Linked DNA regions of Homo sapiens. The protein of the gene in region 2 interacts with the protein of the main gene of each other region in a pairwise test. Each region holds a gene or a part of one and is shown on either strand. Other genes may lie near its edges.

Region 1 (7,000 bases), on a different chromosome or scaffold from region 2:
CAGCCTCCTGAGTAGCTGGGATTACATGTGCACACCACCACACCCGGCTAATTTTTTGTATTTTTTAGTAGAGACGGGGTTTCACTATGTTGGCCAGGCTGGTCTTGAACTCCTGACTTCATGATCCGCCTCCCTCGGCCTCCCAAAGTGCTGGGATTACAGGCATGAGCCACCACGCCCGGCCTGGACTTTCATTTTTTTAAAAGGTTCAAAGTTATAGTGCAAGGTTAAGTTGCTTACAGATAGCAGGTGCTTTAGGAACCCTCTAGAAGGAAAGTTGCCATGGGCTGGGTCATCAGGGCTGGTCACAGAGGAAGGAGGAGCTTGAGTTGGGCTTGATGGCTGAGCAGGGATGAGCCAGACAGAGCAATACTATAGAAACAGGGGCTGGAAGGATGCTGTGAGCAGCTTTCAGAGGGAGGCGTCCAAAGGATGAGTGCAGGCAGCGTGCAGACCAGCCTGGCAGCAGCCAGAACACAGATAACCTCCTGGGCAGTCTGATGGACAGCCGAGTGACACATGAAAGCAACATATTTTGATGTGGCTCAGAGCAGGGAAGGCACGGCACTGAGAGTGGGGTAGTCTAGAGATGGTGCCTGGTAGGCTATGGCCAAGGGGCATATGCAGAGCTGTGCCTGGCACCCAGGGGTGACTAACCTTGGAAAGGAAGAGCTCAGCAGATCAGACCATTTGAGAGGGAAAGCGGAGCCTGGGTGACTGGAAGAGTGACGTCACCGCTGCCTGAAGCAGGGGAAGACCCACCAGATTTTTGTCACATGGCCTCTTTCCCAGTGCAGCACTGCCCCCAGCACCTGCACCTCCATCTATTTCTGTCTGAACTCTTGTACTCTTGCTACCTTTCTGGACAGAGTAGCCTCATCGGGGCCCTAAGAGGCAGAGAGAGAAAGACAGTACTGAATCCCTCTGCTCTGGGGATGCGCCTGATGTCACCCACTTGCCTGAGAGACCCTCTGAGATCACTGTGGATCACACACTCCTGCTAGTTGCCCAGGAGCCGTCAGCCAAGGTCTTTGCAGAGCGAGCTGTCTCCATAATCAGACACCTCCAGAACTCTGCTGGAGAGTGAAGGCAGCAAGGAGAGGTGCACTGGCTGCGGGACGTGGGGTTTCTGACCTCTCAGATCATTGAGTATTGTGATCCCAGTGAAGCAACAGAGTTTGAGAAAAATCATTCTGAATAATGAGAAAGAAGATGGCCTGGACCCAGGCTGAGCAGTAGAACCTGGTTGGGTTGTGTTTTTCTGGTTTATTGATCTGGTCGACGTGGACCACGCCTTGCTGCACCTCTCTCTGCCTCCCCTGTTTCCCTTTTCTTGGGCCTTCCTAGGCTCCCTGGCTCACGGTGCATTCTTTTCTCATCACAGGCAATTTTTACCCAGAAAAGCAAGCCGGGGCCTGACCCGTTGGACACGAGACGCTTGCAGGGCTTTCGGCTGGAGGAGTATCTGATAGGGCAGTCCATTGGTAAGGGCTGCAGTGCTGCTGTGTATGAAGCCACCATGCCTACATTGCCCCAGAACCTGGAGGTGACAAAGAGCACCGGGTTGCTTCCAGGGAGAGGCCCAGGTACCAGTGCACCAGGAGAAGGGCAGGAGCGAGCTCCGGGGGCCCCTGCCTTCCCCTTGGCCATCAAGATGATGTGGAACATCTCGGTAAGCACCAGGCCTTTCATCTTTAAAGGAGATGTTCTCAAAATGCCCATCTTAGTGGGCCTGGTGAGGATTTTTTCCAGGAAGTAGGTAGGAAAAGACAGATTATCCACAGGAAAGGTGCCTGTATAGTCAGGTTACCTCCCCCTGTTACACAGAAGTCTAAACCAGAATGTTTGAAATTGTATTCTGCCCACAGATCACCCAGAGATCAGGTTCAAAGGTAGATTTTGGCCAGGCCTGGTGGACCATGCCTGTAATCCCAGCACTTTGGGAGGCCAATCACTTGAGCTCAGGAGTTTGAGACCAGCCTGGGCAACATGATGAAACCCCATCTCTATGAAAAATACAAAAATTAGCCGGGTGTGACAGCTTGCACCTGTATGTAGTCTTAGCTACTTGGGTGGCTGGTGGCTGAAGTGGGAGGATCACTTGAGTGCAAGAGGCAGAGGCTGCAGTGATCCAAGATTGTGGCACTGCACTCCAGCCTGGGTAACAGAGTAAGACCCTGTCTCAAAACAAAACAAACAAACAAAAAAAACCCAAAGGTAGATTCTGATTCAGCAGGTCAGGGATGGGGCCTAAGATTGTGCCTTCCCAATAAGCTCCCACGTGATACCAATGCCACTGCTCTGTCAACCACACTTTGAGTAACAAGTGCCTAAACCACTGATTTCTACCTTGATTGGTTAGTTCACCATCCCCTCCTTCCTGCAACCTGCCTCACTGGAGAGGGGGAACTGGATCTCTTTCCTTTAAGCTCACTCTGCAAGCCCACCTCCAGCTCAGAGGCTTGCATGTCAACTCCCTACTCTCAACTCTTGGAAGGACTCAAGACTTTGGGAAATTGAAGAGTATTTTTCCCCCACGAAAACAATTTCTGTCCACTTAATTTATTTACCTTGCCATTGCTAGGTAGGTTTTAAAAATGTATTAAGACCCGATGCTCTGTCTCCTGCCCATCCCTGGGCCCATCCATTCAAGGCCGCAGTGGGAAGTGGCCACAGCCGTTCATGGTGGGCCCTAGAGGATGCAGTTTCTTGTTCTGATTTGGGGAATGAAGGTTATTAGACTGTTGCACTCCAAGCTGGGTTAATAGCTAACAAGTAGCCAAATCCTTTGCCTGTGAAACATCCAGTCTTAGCATCAAAACATGCCCTGGTTGGGGCATGACAGCTGTTGCATTCACAGCAGCTACAAGATTGTTGATTCTTACCAGATCTTCTTGATACAGGTTTCATATGTCCTGAGAGCCCTTCCCAATACAATGAGGACAATAAGGTGCTTTCCCCACTCTTTGGTTTTTGTCTGTTTGTCGTGGGGGATGGAGGAAGGCTGTTCTGTGATTCAGTACAACTTCACCCAGGGTGGAGCATGTCAGGCTCTGGCCTGGCTGCTGAAGGGAGCCTGCAGAATGAGTTAGTGATCCAGTGGTCAATTTTGAACTGGTGGGGACCAGAGGCACCGATGGCAGGAAGCAGCACCCCATATCCTGATCACCTTGGCATCTCCTCCAGCCCTGGCATCTAGGCTGCAAGAGTTTGAGGAGTGTGAAGAATCCTCTGAGTTGGCATGGATGGTACCTCTGTCTGCCTCCCAGGAGTAACTAGTCTCAGCCTGCCAGTTAAGACAGGTCATCTTATCTCGAAGGTCAGAGCCAATTCTAGGCAGTAGCTGCCCTGCTCCAGGTTACAGGCAGGGCTTACAAGGAACTTACCATTCTGCTCCGGCCTGTGTAACCCTGGGTTCCTTGTGGGTGTTCCAGGCAGGTTCCTCCAGCGAAGCCATCTTGAACACAATGAGCCAGGAGCTGGTCCCAGCGAGCCGAGTGGCCTTGGCTGGGGAGTATGGAGCAGTCACTTACAGGTAAGTGCCCTCTGCCTGCCAGACTGACTGGGACTTCTTTGAGAGCAACTTCATCCATCACTTATGTCCTCAGCACCTGGTACAGTGTCTGATATGACAGTAGATAATAAAGGCTTAATGTTGGTGATGGATTTTCAGTTAGTGGATAATTTCACTTGGGAAAGATTGCAGGTAATCTGACCCCAAATGATGATGCACTTGCGTAATTCACATTGGAGCAGGGGAGAGGAGGCCCCCCAAAAATGCCCAGTTCACAGTGTTGCATGATTGACTGGGGTTCTCAGATTCCTCCTAAGAAATGCACGGGTAGAGCGCCACCTATCGGAATAAACTGAACTCTGTCCCCACCAGAGGGAACACTCATTTCACTAATAGTTATGTGCACTGATGGTGCCAAGAGATTTTAAAAAAAACAAAAAGTGGTCTGTTGGCCCAGAGGTCTCAGTGTGGCAGCAGAGAGCCCAGGGTGTAAGTGCTAGAATCGAGTATGCTTGGGCTGAGGGAGCCCAGGGGAGGCGTGTGCTGCAGAGGAGGGGCTGCTCAGAAAGCCTTCTCAAAGGGACAGTTTGTGCCACCTTGTGAAGGATGAATTGGCATTACTTGGGCAGAGGAGTAGGGAAGTGGCATTCCCAGCAGAGGGAAGAGCAAGTGAACAGCAGCTACGCTTTCAGCTCAGAAAAGCCCATGTCCACCACCAGCCTCACCACAGGTGGTGAGGACTGACGCGCAGGCTATGACAGAGGAGATACTTGTGCCCACCTCAATATTTACAGCCTGGCTCATGCCTGTAATCCCAGCACTTTGGGAGGCTGAGGTAGGCAGATCACTTGAGCCCAGGAGTTCAAGAGCAGCCTGGGCAACATGGTGAAACCCCGCCTTTACAAAAAATAAATTTTAGCCGGGCATGGGGGCAAATGCCTGTGATCCCAGCTACTCAGGAGGCTGAGGCGGGAGGATCATTTGAGTCCAGGGAGGTTGAGGCTGCAGTGAGCCAAGATCATGCCACTGCACTCCAGCCTGGGCGACCCTGGAGTGAGACCCTGTCTCTCATTTGTAGACCCACCAAGAAGAGGTGGGTCTGCTGCATTTTTGGTGATTTACTGGAGGGCTGGTTTATAGATCTTCATTCTGTCAGAAGCAGGGAGGCAAAAGTATGAAATTAAGGGAGTGGTTGTGGAAAACCCCTTCCATGGTTTGGAGGTTTCCAATGTGACTGGGAGTCCCTGCAGGCCGGTGGAGGTAGCTGCTCAAGTGGCTGCTGCTTCTCCTGAGGCCTTTTTGGAGAAAGTGGACACCTGAATGTCAGCTGCTTTGGGGCTAACATGATCCTTGATGCCTCCTTTTGTGGCATGAGTGGCAGCCGGCCGACGTGGTGCTGTCCTGCTGCCGGAGCACCATGATGTCTGCTGCTGAGACCTCCCATCTGACATAGTCCCTGTCCCTCTTCAGGGACTTTGTTCCTTTAGCAGTTCTCACTGTCTGGCCTCAAATAACACGTCTTTTTCTGTTGGTTCCTTTTTGCTCCAGCTGTACTGTAAACACTCTTTGTTTACTGCATACCCTCAGTAAATACCTGTTGAATGACCGGATAGATGTGGCAGCAGGTACATTACCTCAACTTCTGGTACACCTTGGGAGAAGCTTTCCCAAGAACACCCTGGGTTCATTTCCTCCTAGCCTCTGCTCTCCTGGGGCCCAGAGATTGAAGGCGCTTAACCTGCTCATCTCACCACGTCTCCCGCCTTATCTCTCACCCTTCTCATCAGCACCCTACACTCCACCACGCTGGCTTCATAGCTCCTTCCCCGAATGTGCCAGGCTTCTCTGTGACCATCTCTTGAGCGTACAGCTGGCTATACCTGGGCTGCCCTCCTCCCACATTTCAGGTCTCAGTTCAGACACCCGCAACCCCACCATGTATCTCCCCAGTACAGCCATACTCCTCTGCCCCTGAGCTCCCATGACACCTGCTGGGGCCCTGACAGCCTGGGGCTGTGATCATGACTTGCCCAGGGGCCCGAGGGTGGAAACGATGCTCTGGCTCCTTTGATTGCATAGAACAGGGGCCACTCAGGTTGACTCAAGAGCAGGAGCAGCGCGTGGGCACACGTGGACTGCAGCCACACAGCCTGGGGACCATGCAGTGCTGGGAGAGGCCGGTGCCCTGCTCTCTCCCCAGCACCGTCTAGGCTCTGCCCCATTCGCTTCCCTCCACCATTGTTATGCAGCAAAGGGGGCTCTAGCCTGATGTGCTAGAAGCAGTCACACTGGATTTTTGAGAAAAGCCAAGCTTTCTATTGTGAGTCGACTCATATGGAGACAGGAGTTGAATTCAACCCTGTCTCCCTGTGCTAGCTTTAAGGCGGTAATTTTATTAGAGGAGGTTTAAGGGGTGGATTCTAAGATTAGCAGGTGATTGATGGAAGGAAAGGAGAAGTCTGGACAGTCCTTGGACATGCACAGTTATCTGTTCATGCCAACTCATGGGTCCCCTGTGCAGATTTGGGAGGAGTGAGTATGAAACGTGCAGTGGCAATTCAGGCTTTGACATCAGCAAACTTGTTCTGTGCAAGCTGCAATTGGCCTTATTGGTTCCAACCAATTTCAGCCAGTTCTTTTATCTCATAAGCAGAGGGAGTTTCAGCCTTTCAGAAAGTGGTTTCTGCAAACTCAAATTTTCTTTTATTTTTCTGAGACAGGGTCTTACTCTGTTGCCCAGGCTGGAGAGCAGTGGCGTGATCTTGGCTCACTGCAGCCTCAACCTCCCTGGGCTCAAGTGATCCTCCCACCTCAGCCTCCCAAGTAGCTGGGTCTGCAGGCACATGCCACCATGCCCAGCTAATTTTTGTAGTTTTTGTAGAGACAGAGTTTCTCCATGTTGCCCGGGCTGGCCTCGAACTCCTGGGCTCAAGCAATTGCCTGCCTCAGCCTCCCAAATTGCTGGGATTACAGGAGTGAGCCACGGGAATTTCCATCAGTTACTGATTCTTGAACTTGTAGGAACGTGGTTCCACTGTCCACATGCTGTTCTTTCCTCGCATCTCCTGTTCCTGCTTCCCTTTGGCCTGCTCACCTCTGGCTCCTCATGGCCCCAGTGAAGTATCGTGGCTTCCTCTCCACTGCAGACTGGCAGATTTCTTCACTCACACTCCCAAAAAGAGAATCTACTTCCCTCCCTTCCCTTCGTCCAACCATCTGGGTCTCGAGTGTCACTGTAGGTTCACTGCCGTTGGGGCAGGTGACTCCTTGGGCCAGTCAGCTTTGGCTGAAGGGCAGGGCTGGCACACAGCTGGCAGAGCCACCCCATCCAAAATCCAGCCACTGTGCCTCAGCAGGGCTGTGGTTTGGGGGTCGGGGGGCGCTCCCCACAGGATAAGGAGCAGCCAGGGCAGGCAGATGACACTACCACTACTAGCTGCATCTGGATCTATTCACTTATTCAACAAAGGTTTATTACACCCATAT
Region 2 (7,160 bases):
CTGGAGTGCAGTGGTGCAACCTCAGCTCACCACACCCTCCGCCTCCTGGGTTCGAGTGATTCTCCTGACTTCGCCTCCCACGTAGCTGGGACTACAGGCGCATGCCACCACACCCAGCTAGGTTTTGTATTTTTAATAGAGATGGGGTTTCACTATGCTGGCCAGGGTGGTCTCGAACTCCTGACCTCATGATCCACTAGCCTTGGCCTCCCAAAATGCTGGGATTACAGGCGTGAGCCACTGCGCCTGGCCTACCCTCAGAATATTTCTGTGAGGGGTGGGCTAGGATATCCGCTTGTGGACTTTATATTTGTCATTTTTGCCCATAACAGTTTATTCAGCAAATACATTTCCAATGCCCCCGAGTCGTCAAAGAAAATGTGACCCTGCTGTCTGGAGTCATAGGTGGCTGCTGAGCAGTGTACCAGGGCCATCTTGGTGGCCTGGACAGCACATTAGAGAAACAAGAGCTGCTTGCCCCAGGGTAAGTTTCACAGATGAGGAGCGATTTGGGCCGAGTGTCCAAGGCTGTTTTCACTGGAGGGGAGGGAGGAACGTTCCATGTCTGGAAAGCTGCAGGTGCAAGGGTAAGGAGATAGCTCTGAATAATTGGTTTGATGAAAGACTTGCGGGAGTGTGCAGGAGTGATGGTGAATGAGGCTAGCAGTTGTGTCTTTTCTGTCAGATATAAGCTTGTGCGTAGGAGCCTCATCCTGCATTCCTCAGGACAGTCACAGAGCCAGCCCTGGGCCTGGTGTGTGGGGAGCCCAGCCACGTGGCCCACCATGAGAGCTTTTCGTCAGAGCTCCAACTGTCAGAAGTGTCAGATGTGCCAGTAGAAGGATGAGGCCGCCTCCTAAAGGAGAGGGAAGACCTGGAAAGATCAACAGCAGACGCAGTCTCCCAAAGCAAACGTGATTCTGTGGTCAGGCAGGTACGGTGACGGGTTGGTCATTTTGCATGACGAGGTGACTGCCACAATCACCAAGGGTGCCGAGTCCAGTCTCCTGGTCATGCCAGATGCTCTTGTTTTCGTGAAATTGCCAGAACATGACTGAGGCAACCACGATAGGACTGGTTGGTGCAGGCGTTAAGATCTTGGGCCTTTTTGTTCTCTGTAAGCTGGAGCCTTTGCTGGAACTTCCTGTCTTGGAAATCAGAGTTGTGAGAGTAGGTCCCCTGCCAGCACCAGGAAGGTCGGGAGAGCTGGTTTCCTCACTTTGCTCAGGGCTCAAGTACTAGCTAGTTTGTTTCATCTTCCAAAAAGAGCCTCACCTGGACCCCGCTCCTGTAGGTGGTGCCTGCCTGCTGCGCCCTCCCCTTCAGTACTTCGTTTTGTTGACGGGTTTTGCCTCCTCCCTCTGCTCTCCCTTTGTTTGGAGCCTGTGCTGTTTGATTTCCGTGTCTTGTGTGCTGCACCCTTCAGGAGAATTCAGGTGAATTTCTGGTGCTCTCCGGCTGTTCTTTTCAGAGTGGAGGGGAGTAGTACTTGCTGGTCAGTTGCGACTCTGTCTGTGAAACAGCTCTTTGTGTTGCTGAGATGACGCTAGAGGTGTAGCGTCCATGACATGTTTGTCGTCTGATTAAGCTGTGGTGCTGGCACTTAGACGGCAGAGGAAGGTGTGGCCCAGCTGTCCAAGGCCACCAGGAGGACCTTCAGCTTAGTTAGGACCAAGGGAACTGAGTTATCTGAGTGCCTGAAAAAGAACACATCAGGCCGGGCGCGGTGGCTCTCGTCTGTAATCCCAGCACTTTGGGAGGCCGAGGTGGGTGGATCACTTGAGTTCAGGAATTTGAGACCAACCTGGCCAACATGGCGAAACCCCGTCTCTACTAAAAATACAAAGAAATTAGCCAGGGTGGTGGCAGGCGCCTGTAATCCCAGATACTTGGGAGGCTGAGGCACGAGAATTGCTTGAACCTGGGAGGTGGAGGTTGGAGGTTGCAGTGAGCCAAGATTGTGCCACTGCACTCCCTCCTGGGCGACAGTGCAAGACTCTGTCTTGGAAACAAACACATCAATCCGAATGTAAGAGATTAGCAAAGCGTTTATTGGTTACTGGGTGAGTAGTTGGCCTAAGCTAAGACAAAAGAGGAATCTCCAAGTATTTTGCTACCCCTTGGCAGGAAGAGAGGGAATGCAGCTTGCGGGGTGGGGATGGGGGTGTCAGGTTGATAAGAAAACTGTGGGAAAATAAACATTTACTCCTGCCCCCCATGTCAGTAAATACCATGTGACAAAGGTGAGTTCCATGAAAGAGGCTGTTACTGAGGCCTGTGATACTTGCTTGTCTCAAAATGCTGACATATCTTTTTTTTTTTTTTTTTTTTTTTTTTTTTTTTTTGAGACAGATTCTTTCTGTCGCCAGGCTGAAGTGCAGTGGCATGACCTCAGCTCACTGCAACTTCCGCCTCCTGAATTCAGGCAGTTCTCCTGCCTCAGCCTCCTGAGTAGCTGGGACTACAGGTGCATGCCACCATGGCCAGCCAATTTTTGTATTTTTAGTAGAGACGAGGTTTCACCGTGTTGGGCAAGATGGTCTCAATCTTTTGACCTTTTGATCTGCCTGCTTTGGCCTCCCAAAGTGCTGGGATTACAGACATGAGCTACCACGTCGGGCCTGACAAAGAATCTTGATAGCGATTGAAAATGTATCCATTCATACTCAAATGAAGTAAAAAGTGCTTTTGGGTTCAAAGCCAGAGAATGTTCATGGATGGCGTTTTTGGTGCCTCAAGTGTAGCCAGCTAGAACTTTTCTTACCACCGTCCTGCTTAGTCCTACTGAAGACCTGCCTTCTACTAGGAAGCTGCTCTTAGTCCACAAAGTGGCTTCCCTGTAGTTCCACAGCATTTAACAAAATAGATTTCAGGGAGTTTATTTGTGGTGTGGCTGGTTATTTCTGCTAAAACCACTAGGAATTACCATAAAAGCTGTAGCTTGGAGAAACAGTATCTACTTGCGGGAGTATTACTGCCACCTGTGTTTTTTTTGTTTTTGTTTTGGTTTTTGTTTTTTTTTTGTTTTTTTCAAGATGGAGTCTTGCTCTGTTTCCCAGGCTGGAGTGCAGTGGCACGAACTCGGCTCACTGCAATCTCCACCTCCCGGGTTCAAGCAGTTCTCCTGCCTCAGCCTCCCAAGTAGCTGGGGCTACAGGCATGCACTACCGTGCCCGGCTAATTTTTGTATTTTTAGTTGAGGTAGAGTTTCACCATGTTGGCCAGGCTGGTCTTGAACTTCTGACCTTGTGATCTGCCTGCCTCGGCCTCCCAAAGTGCTGGGATTACAGGTGTGCGCCACCGTTCCCAGCCCTGCCATTGGCTTTTTAACCAGGTGAATTCCTGTAGATTGGGTAGATTGAAAGGACATGTAGCTGAATCATTGGTTTTAAAAGGAATGGCTCAGTTACTTCATAGCCATATAATTAAGAAATGTGGCTAGAAGGTAAAAAATTGGCCAGGCCTGGTAGCTCATGCTTGTAATCCCAGCACTTTGGGGGCTGCGGCGGGAGGATCCTGTGAGTTTAGGAGTTTGAGACCAGCCTGGGCAACCTAGAGAGACCCCCATCTCTACCAAAAAACCCTTTTTTTTTTTTTTCCAATTAGCTGGGTGTGCCTGTGGTCCCAGCTACCCAAGAGGCTGAAGTGGGAGGCTCCCTTAAGCCTTGAGAAGTCGAGGCTGCAGTGAGCTGTGATCACGCCACTGCACTACAGTCTGGGTGACAGAGTGACAGTGTCTCAAAAAAAAAAATATATATATATATATATATATACACACACACATATAAAAGAAATTAATTTTGAGATAGCTAAATTAAATGCCATATTAAGAGCAGGAGGCTATTCAGCAATGCTGCTGAGAAGAAGACAGAAGGACGTGGGTCCTTCTAATGTAACTATGTGTGTCGGGTTAGTGATATGCACCTCGAAGGAGAAATTAAGACAGCACATTGCCATGTTAGTTCACACTTGCCAGTATTTCAGCATTTGTCAGGCAATGGAATGTTCAAGCGAATTTTCCACGAGGCTGACTTTAAAACATTTCATTTTAACCATTATGATGAGAAGTCTTTCTAGAACACTCCATCATTTGATGGCCCATGACTGAACCTCTCTTGGATGTTTTCAGGGTCATTATTACGGGTGTTAATGTTTGGTCTTCTGTTTTAATATGTAGGCTCCCGTAGGGCCATTGAAATGTGAAGAATCCTTCGTCTATGAAGTGTCCCCACATCAAAACTGCATTGTGAGTGTTTATATTTTTGGCCTCTCTTACTGTGGCCTTAACTTGCAGGTCTGTCTGGAGCCCTGTTCTCTCCTTTCCTAGTTTGCAGATGTGGCTGGGAAACTTGTTAGCATCAAATTGTTAGAATGAGATGGATTTCATATGGGGCCAGTAGTCTTCCATGAGCAAAGCTCAGGGTGAGGGCTTCAGGCCCATATTTTGACTATTCCGAGGTGCCCTTTCGCTTTTTGTTCTTTTTCTTTATGTTCAAGGAGTTATGTTTCCTGATGAATGAAGTATCAGTATATCATAGTAGAGAACGATTAGACCAGGTTCTGGAACACAGGAAACCTCAAGAAACAGTGAGTGTTGAGAATGCCAGAGCTAAGAACTCAGACATTTGTGAGGGAATACAGGTCTTTCTGTTCAGAATGTTCATGTACTTAAGAATCTTCTCGCCAGGCGCGGTGGCTCACGCCTGTAATCCCAGCACTTTGGCAGGCTGAGGCGGGTGGATCACCTGAGGTTAGGAGTTTGAGACCAGCCTGACCAACATGGAGAAACCCTGTCTCTACGAAAAATACAAAACTAGCCGGGCGTGGTGGCGCATGCCTGTAATCCCAGCTACTTAGGAGGCTGAGGCAGGAGAATCGCTTGAATCTGGGAGGTGGAGGTTGTGGTGTGCCGAGATGGCGCCACTGCACTCCAGCCTGGCAACAAGAGCGAAAACTCCGTCTCACACACACACACAAAAAAAAGGGAAACAAAGGTAAACTGGGAAGGAACCGTGTGTAATCTTCCGTACCTTGCATTTTCCACTTATATTCTGGGGTTTGTTTCCTGTCGCCACAGAGCTCTGGTATTCCATAGCGAGGATGTTTTGTAATTTATGTAACCCTCTCATGGCGGACATTTAGGTTGTTGCTGAGTTTCCCCAAGATAACAGACGGCATTGCCAACAGTTTCTCACACCTTCACCAGTGCTAGAATGACAGTATTTAAAACATCTGTCAATCTGGTAGTGAAAATGCTATCTCGTTTTAAAGTGCATTTCCTTAGTTATGAGTGTGGTAAAACATCTTTTACTAGGACGTAAAGCCATTGATGTTTCTTGTTTTTGTGAATGGCCATTTTTCTCTTGAACCAATGGCCTTTTTCTTTTTTTTTTTTTTTTTTTTGAGATGGAGTTTTGCACTTGGTGCCCAGGCTGGAGTGCAGTGGCGTGATCTTGGCTCACCGTAACCTCTGCGCTAGCCCTTTTAAATAACTTTTAAAAATTGAGACAGTGTCGGGCCAGGCACGGTGGCTCACGCCTGTAATCCCAGCACTGTGGGAGGCCGAGGCGGGCGGATCATGAGGTCAGGAGATCGAGACCATCCTGGCTAACACGGTGAAACCCCATCTCTACTAAAAATACAAAAAATTATCTGGGCATGGTGGCGGGCGCCTGTAGTCCCAGCTACTTGGGAAGCTGAGGCAGGAGAATGCCGTGAACCCAGGAAGCGGAGCTTGCAGTGAGCCGCGATCGCACCACTGCACTCCAGCCTCGGCAACAGAGCAAAACTCCATCTCAAAAAAAAAAAAAAAATTGAGACAGAGTCTGACTCTGTTGCCCAGGCTGGAGTGCAGTGGCGCCATCTCACCTTACTGTAACCTCCGCCTCCCGAGGTTAAGCAGTCCTCTCGCCTCAGCCTCACAAGTAGCCGGGATTACAGGCACGCGCCACCATGCCCGGCTCATTTATTTTTATTTATTTATTTATTTATTTTGAGATGGAGTCTCGCTCCGTCGCCCAGGCTGGAGTGCAGTGGTACAATCTTGGCTCACTGCAACCTCCGTCTCCCAGGTTGAAGCATTTCTCCTGCCTCAGCCTCCCTAGTAGCTGGGACTACAGGCACCCGTCACCACGCCCGGCTAATTTTTGTATTTTTAGTAGAGATGGAATTTCACCATGTTGATCAGGCTGGTCTTGAACTCCTGACCTCATGATCCATCCGCCTCAGCCTCCCAAAGTGTTGGCATTACAGGTGTGAGCCACTGCTCCTGGCTTTCTGGCTAATTTTTGTTTTTTTTTGTATTTTTAGTAGAGACAGGGTTTTGCCATGTTGGCCAGGCTAGTCTCAAACTCTTGACCTCGGGATCTGCCCGCCCCCACCTCCCAAAGTGCTGTGATTACAGGCGTGAGCCACGGCACTAAATTTTATTTTAGAGGCAGGGTCTTGCTTTGTCATCCGGGCTGGAGTGCAGTTGTGCGATCCTGGCTCGCTGCAGGCCTGACCTCCTGGACTCAAGTGATACTCCTGCCTCATCCTCCCAAGTGGCTGTGACCTCTTCCTCCCAAGGAGCATGTGCCACCATGCCTGGCTAATTAAAAAACATTTTTTTTAGAGATGGGGTCCCACTATATTGCCCCGGCTTGTCTTGAACTCCTGGTCTCAAGTGATCCTCCTACTTCTGCCTGCCAAAGTACTGGGATTACACGCAGGAGCCGTCGTGCCTGGCCCCCAGTTTTTTTCTTAATGTGTTTGTCTTTTTTTTTTTTTTTTTTGAGTTAGAGTCTCGCTCTGTCTGTTGCCCAGGCTGGAGTGCAGTGGCACGATCTTGGCTCACTGCAGCCTTCGCTTCCCGAGTGCAAGCAAGTCTCCTGCCTCAGCCTCTGGAGTAGCTGGGATTACAGATGCCCGCTGCGACTCCCAGCTAATTTTTGTATTTTTGGTAGAGACGGGGTTTCACCATGTTGGCCAGGCTGGTCTCGAACTCCTGACCTCAGGCGATCCACCCACCTCAGCCTCCCAAAGTGCTGGGATTACAGGCATGAGCCACCTCACCCGGGTGTTTGTCTTTTGACTTAAATTTTTATGTGGTCCTTATATTTATGGCCTTTTGGGTTATATATTTTGTTTAGAAACATTTCCTCTTAAGGCCGGGCGCGGTG
Region 3 (7,119 bases), on a different chromosome or scaffold from region 2:
CTCCCAAGCTGGAGAGTAGTACCCCAGGGAAAGGAAGGGCAGAGGAGCGTGTGTTTTCTCTGCCTTCTCCCTTCAAGGCTGCATACGAATGGCCCCATCCAGCCGGATGACCTCTCCATTGAGGAATGGGTTCTCGATGATGGCCTGTACGAGGTGAGCATACTCAGCAGGGTCACCCAGTCGGCTAGGGAAGGGCACTTGGCTGGCCAAGAAGTTGCACACTTTCTCTGGGAGGCTGGTCAGCAGTGGGGTGCCAAACAGACCTAAACAATATAGCCAAATTCAGAGACTCACCCTTGCTTTCATGATTACCTGGTTCTTCCTTACTTTAGCCCTACTTCTTGGTGCTTCTCTGGGGCCCAAAGATAAAAGGCTGCTGCTGCTTAGGTGGTGGATACCTTCCCCTCTCAACTGTCCATGGATCCCACCCAATCCCAGGTATGATGGAGAGAGGGGATATGTCTACCTGGGGCAATGGTCATCACCCGGATACCTATGGGAGCCAGATCCCGAGCAATGGGCAGTGTCATGCCCACTATTCCCCCCTTGGAAGCAGAGTATGCAGCTTGTCCAACCTGGAGAAAGAGTAGAAGTCATAGGTGGGAGGGCCCCAACAAGTCACTTAGGAGGCATAAGTCTTACCCCTGCCCACACACCTGACCCTCGAAGGCAGCCACACTGGCAGTGTTGATGATGACCCCACGTTGGCCTCCCTGGTCTGGTTCATTCTGGCCCATCTCACCAGCCACCAGGCGGATCACATTGAAGGTGCCCATGAGATTCACCTGTAGGACAGATGGAGACATGCTATAGGACCTGAGGCAGAAGAAGCCTTTGTCCCCTAAAAACTTTGGGGTCCTCCACAGCCAGATACTTCTTACTACCACTATCCCTGGAGAACTTCCAAGGCCTTACATCAAGAACTCGCTGGAAGTCTTCCAAGGTATGGGTCTGGCCCTTCTTTAAGTTGTACGTCTTGCTAGCCACCGCGATGCCTGCACAGTTGACAGCTACATCCACACGGCCAAACTTTCCTTTTGCTAGAGCCAGAGCTGTTTGCACATCCTTCTCAGAGGTCACCTTCAAAGAGAGAAGTGGAGAAGGTATTCATCTCCCAGCACCCACTCTTCCCACTAAACCTGAGGGAGGGCAGGGCAGGGCATGCCCAGTCCTTGGGTGAGAAGAGATTTGTGAGAAGGGAGAGGCCAAGAGAAAGGTTGTAAAACTTGAGAGATAGGCTGGGTGCGGTGGCTCATGCCTGTAATCTCAGCACTTTGGGAGGCCGAGGCTGGTGGATCACTTAAGATCAGGAGTTTGAGACCAGCCTGGCCAACGTGGTGAAAACCCGTCTCTACTAAAAATACAAAATTAGCCGGCATAGTGACACATGCCTGTAATCCCAGCTACTTGGAAGGCTGAGGCAGAAGAATCGCTTGAACCCGGGAGGCAGAGGTTGCAGTGAGCTGAGATCGTGCCATTGCACTGCAGCCTGGGCAACAGTGAGACTCTGTCCCAAAAAAAAAAATTGAGAGAGTAGGTCAAAGGTGAAAATATTAGGTAATATAGAGCAGTGTTGCAAAAACATTTTTCAAATCAATACCTTCTTGATAAATTCACATGCTCCTGAAGATTCTTAATTGCTGTGGATCAGAGCACTAATGCAACCCTGTTGTGAGGCTGGGTGCAGTGGCTCACACCTGTAATCCCAGCACTTTGGGAGGCCGAGGCGGGCGGATCACGTGAGATCAGGAGTTCAAGACCAGCCCGGCCAACATGGTGAAACCCCATCTCTTCTAAAAATACAAAAAAAAAAATTAGCTGGGCGTGGTGGCAGGTGCCTGTAATCCCAGCTACTTGGGAGGTTGAGGCAGGAAAATCGCTTGAACCCAGAAGATGGAGGTTGCAAGGAGCTGAGATTGTGCCACTGCACTCCAGCCTGGGCAACAGAGCGAGACTCCATCTCAAAAATAAAAATAAAAAATAACCCTCTTGTGAGAATTATTGATAGGAAGATAAACTAGCTTTTTTGTATCCTTACCTGCTAAGATGATTTCATCAAGTTTCACTTTCTGTAGTTTGTTTCATGAAAACAAGTTTTTTGACTTTGTAAATATAAAATTACAAGGCACAAAATGCATTTTCAAACCATACATAACTCCTCCAGGAGATTGTTACGTCCAATCCCCATCCTCATTGTTGTGAATCCCAGCTTTAGAGAATCCTTATCACAGGTGGTCCCACAGTGCTTGAAGGCTCAGGCCAAAAGAGACAAGGAGATGGGTCTACCGCCCCCATAGAGGAGACCCTTATGGGAGGGACCCCCACAGGTTCCCAGGCCGGTGTTGGTGACCTCATGCACACCCTGGGAGAGGAGAGGTGACCCCACTTACGTCGGCTGGGGCGAAAACGCAGTTGTTTCCTAACTTCTTGGCTTGGGCCTCCCCACCCGAGTTGGGCAGGTCCAGAAGCACAGCAGAGGCTCCCTGCCCCACAAGTCGCTCCGCCGTGGCCAGGCCCAGGCCCGAGGCTCCTCCGGTTATTACCGCCACCAGGCCCTGTCAAAAGGGACATGGTCAGGGTCAGCTGTTACATTGCCCAGACCATCCCCACGCTGTCGCCTGCCTGTTCTCCAGGCTTCTGAGGAGAAGGGGGGAGGGGAGAGGTCGTGGTCACCCCTGCGGGTAAACTAGGTGTGCTGCTTCTCCTCAGCGTTGGGACCTCGGGGGCAGAAGGGATCTCATCCCCAGACAGCCCGTCCCGTGACGATAGATAGATAGATGATTGATAGATAGATAGATAGACAGACAGACAGACAGACAGATGCGCCGCGGAGTGCTGACTTTCACCTCTTGAGCCCAACGGCCACAATACCAGGCCTACATAAGCATGACCCTTTCCCTCGAAACCGATCTCTTTCTCCTAGTTCCACGGCCGCGCTGTCCCGGCCCGTAAAGGAAGGCAAGCAACAGAGGCAAAGAACCTTCTACCTTCACGCTCCGACACGCTGCTGCCATCTTGTCGCCGGCCACTCCACGGGATGGGGATGGGGGCGCGGGCGCTCGTTGATTGGCCGAGGCGAAGCGGCGGAAGGGGCGGATGCGACGGGCCGGGGCGTCTGCCGCTGCCGCATGAGACGTGGGGGCGTGGCCTGGTACGCTAGTCCTTTGGCCAGAGGGCGGATTCCGCCTGCTAAGGTATCCCCAGAGTTATTTCAACTGGGGAAAGAGACCAATAGCAGAAGTACAATACCACAACACCCCTCGCCCTACTCTCTAGCTGGCCTTTTGGCAAGTGGCCTGCTCCGCGTGGGGGAAGAGGGGTGGATATTGAGAACGGATGCCTTTCTCCTCTGAAAAAGTCTTAATTCAAGTATGAATGTATTTGAGACTCCTATATGCTAGACGGTGTGCGGGGCACCTGGGATACCCAGCGGAATAATAAAAGATTCATGCCTTCCAGGAGGGCACAGTCCAGGTGGAGAAAGAGAATTACAGTACAGACACAGACGAATGGACGGAACCAGATTCTGGGACACTCAGACAAGGAGATCCAAAGATGAGGAGTCTGAGTTAGAGAGAGAGAGAGCCATGTAAAGAGAAATATGTTGAGGCCGAGATAGGAAGAGAGATGCCAGGTAGGATCACAGAGAGATGAATGTGGAAAGCCGCTAAGAGAGATGCTTGGAGACAGACATTCTAGGACAGCTGCTGAGAAGCACAAACCTAAAGAGGCAAAAACATCTTTCATCAGTTCAGGCTTTGCTACTCTCCTCTATCTTTGTCTAATTTAAGTCCAAAAGCCCAGATCACACACTGCAGATTGGACTTCAACCAGAGACTATTATTTAAGACCCAGGTCTTTGTCATCCTAGAACATCTTTCAGGCAGCTTCCAGAAGCTATGTCATTAGAGTCTTGAGCCCAGATATCTAATCTGTCTTCCTTCTATACTTTTCCTCAAACCAAGGTCTTCAGGCCATAAATCTTAGCCCACCATTTCAGCCTCAGAACTGCTTTATGTTTTCTCTATCTGAAATATCTCCCCCCACTTGCTTTCTCACCCAGGAAGATTCCCCTCCAGGCCTTCTAGTTGTTGACAGCCACCACACTCATAATCACTACACCGTATTTACCAAAGGATTTAGCACACCGGTCTCACAATTTTCCTATCTACATGAAGTGCTTCCATCAATTTATAGCACTCTTCATCCGGCCCAATATGCTGTAGCCACAGTGGCCTCCTTTGTGTTCATCTTTGCATTAGCTGCTCCCTCTGCTTGGAATGCTCTCCCCTGATCTTTGCATGACTGCTTTTATTTTTTTTCATTCAGAACTAAGCTTAAATATCACCTTCCCAGAGGGGTCCTCCCTAAATATTCAAACTGTAGCCACCTAGACACTATCCCATTGCATATTTGAATTATCTTCATAGCACTTGCATGTCCGTAATCCATTTTCCAACCTTAGGGCCAGATGTGCTGTGGAATTCAGAGTTTTTTTCAATTTGAGAAAGGAAGACATGTAATTTATATTACATAACTCTTTAAAAAAACTAGTCAAACATAACTTTTTGTATAGTCTATATTATATAACTATTGAGAAAAGCCTGGAGCATCGTAATGAAATATTAATATTTCTGAAGTGAAAGGTATGAAAATTCACACCAAGTGTGAATAAAGACTATAAATAGCCTCACACTACTTCAGGTCAGGTTTTGTCATCTATTGAGTTTGGGCTCCAAAGTATGAAAAAACAACCTTATGCTTTTCAGAAGTTTTGGCATTGCAGGATTGTGCCTACAGGCTTGTGAGCCTGCATGCTCCGCTAACCTGGCCTTGTTTGTGTAGTTCTCCCCCTGCTGGAAGGTAAGCCCCATGGCACCAGGGGCTTGTCCAGCTGGTTCACCTAATGCCGAGAACACTGCTTGGCGTGTACAAGACACTTAAAACAAATGTGTGAAATAAATGAATTAATGAATTAATCTTGGAAGAATTTCCAGGCACAGTTTCATGATTCTTTCACCTGCCCAACTCCGGGAACCTTCACCTCCTCTCTACTTTAACCACCTGTCCAGGCCACCTTATTGCACTTGTCATTCCCTGGAATAACCTCCTGCCCTCCCCAGCATCTACACACCATCTTTTCTCTCTCTGACCATGTTCTCGAGTTGTCTTGGATCTCTTCCCCTCTACCGCTTTTTTTTTTTTTTTTGAGATGGAGTCTCCCGCTGCCCAGGCTGGAGTGCAGTGGCGCATCTTGGCTCACTGCAACCTCCGCTTCCTGGGTGCAAGCAATTCTCCTGCCTCAGCTTCCAGAGTAGCTGAAATTACAGGCATGGGCCACCACGCCTGGCTAATTTTTGTATTTTTAGTAGAGATGGGATTTTACCATGTTGGCCAGTCTGGTGTTGAACTCCTGACCTCAGGTGATCCGCCCTGCCTCAGCCTCCCAAAGTGTTGGGATTACAGGCATGAGCCATCGCGCCCAGCCTCAGCTCTATTATTTACTAGCCGAATGACCCTGGACAAGTTACTTAACTGATGTGCCTCAGTTTCCTCTTCTGTAAAATGAGTATAAACAAATGACTATTCGTAGGGTTGTTAGGAATAAATGAGTTAACAACTATGTATTTAAAAAGGACTTGGAACAGTGCTTGGCCTTTAGCAAGAGCTATATAAGTGTTAGCTATGGTTACTCTTCAGAGCAGTGTTTCTCATCCTTTTCTATGCTACGGACACCTATGGGAGTCTGGTGAAGTCTTAGGAACCCCTTCCCAGAATAATGCATGCGTCCTATAAGTAGGATTACAAAAGAAACCAATTATATTGGGGTACAATTTTCAAAATAAAAGGAAACGCACCTGTAATGTAGTAATATATGTGCTTCTTTATTAACACATTAAATAGCAAGCTCTATCAACAGGTCTAGTGACAACCATGATTTTTGAAATAGTGATGTTATTTTGAGAGATATGCAACAACCGTAATAATGAAAATCTGATCTCTCTTAGTGTCAAAGTCACAGGTGCTAATATTACTGCAGTTTGTTACCCACATCCCCTGGAAGGATATGCTATATTTCTGTTAGTAATAGTGAAAATAATGATGCAATTTCCCCTCTATCCAAGTCCATGGGCTCTTTGAATTCTATTCACTGACTCCTCAGGGGTCTTTTGGATTGTGGGTTAAGAACTGTGTTTAGAGGGAGCTCTCTGAACTTCTTCTGGTTCTGAGGGCTGCACAATTAAAAGAACTGTTTTTAGAGCAAACGGAAGCCATTAGTGAATACTTCTCTCTTGCCACCTCCAAAATTGTCTCTACCCACCCACACCATCCTTTCCTTGGGTCTCAGAGATGTCCTGTTTAGGGCTCACCCTTCCACTGGGTTTTGTGTCCCAGCCCCTCCCACTTTCTTGGGGATTTCTGCTACTGAGCATCCTCTCTCTTGATTGCACGCACCTCTGTCTCAAAACCATTAGAAAATAGGGAATAGGGGCTGAGTGCAGTGGTTCACGCCTGTAATCCTAACATTTTGGGAGGCTGAAGCAGCAGGATGTCTTGAGCCCAGGAGTTTGAGACCAGCCTGGGCAACATAGCAAGACCCTGTCTCCACACACACAAAAAAATAGGGAATAAAGTGATGTCAACCTTTACACGCACATACTCAACAGTTTGGATGCATGTCTCATGGGAACCTGAGGGCCAGAGGTGCGCAAAGGGGCCCAGCAAGGACACCAAAACAAGCAACACGCAGCATTGTGTCAAATTAGCCCTGCCAGGAAACAGAGAAGAATAAAGGTGGTCTTTACTCCTGGGTGGTCTTCACTCCTGGGAGATAAAAACCACAAGATAACCCATTTAACTCTTGTGGGCACCTGCAGTTACCTCTGCAAAGACAGAGCTGCACTGGTTCCAGCTGGCTCTGAGGTGACATTGACAAATATAAAGAATCCCAATTATATCATCATCTATGTGAGGGGAAAAGAAGAACCCCAAGTGATGATTATACAGAGCCTGTCATTTCTGAGTGAGCTGGGGCACAATCTGAATGATTGGTTTAAACGCTGAAGGACTGCAGGGGACATGAAAATTACTGTGGCGAGCGTTTGAGAGGATGCTGAG

Evidence for each region.
Region 1: the proteins of TRAP1 (region 2) and PINK1 interact in binary tests that used the Homo sapiens proteins (3 or more experiments, as listed by UniProt).
Region 3: the proteins of TRAP1 (region 2) and HSD17B10 interact in binary tests that used the Homo sapiens proteins (3 or more experiments, as listed by UniProt).

Annotation. Positions count from the first base shown.
Region 1 is NC_000001.11:20,636,458-20,643,457, forward strand, and holds part of PINK1 (serine/threonine-protein kinase PINK1, mitochondrial precursor), read left to right. Parts: intron 1-1,384; coding exon 1,385-1,672; intron 1,673-3,434; coding exon 3,435-3,535; intron 3,536-6,199; exon of another isoform or gene 6,200-6,661; intron 6,662-7,000. UniProt on the Homo sapiens protein: Serine/threonine-protein kinase which acts as a sensor of mitochondrial damage and protects against mitochondrial dysfunction during cellular stress.
Region 2 is NC_000016.10:3,707,471-3,714,630, reverse strand, and holds part of TRAP1 (heat shock protein 75 kDa, mitochondrial isoform 1 precursor), read left to right. Parts: intron 1-4,228; exon of another isoform or gene 4,229-4,246; intron 4,247-7,160.
Region 3 is NC_000023.11:53,431,332-53,438,450, forward strand, and holds the start of HSD17B10 (3-hydroxyacyl-CoA dehydrogenase type-2), read right to left. Parts: upstream 3,040-7,119; 5' UTR 3,015-3,039; coding exon 2,988-3,014; intron 2,556-2,987; coding exon 2,391-2,555; intron 1,081-2,390; coding exon 916-1,080; intron 786-915; coding exon 657-785; intron 576-656; coding exon 467-575; intron 264-466; coding exon 73-263; 3' UTR 1-72. UniProt on the Homo sapiens protein: Mitochondrial dehydrogenase involved in pathways of fatty acid, branched-chain amino acid and steroid metabolism. Acts as (S)-3-hydroxyacyl-CoA dehydrogenase in mitochondrial fatty acid beta-oxidation, a major degradation pathway of fatty acids.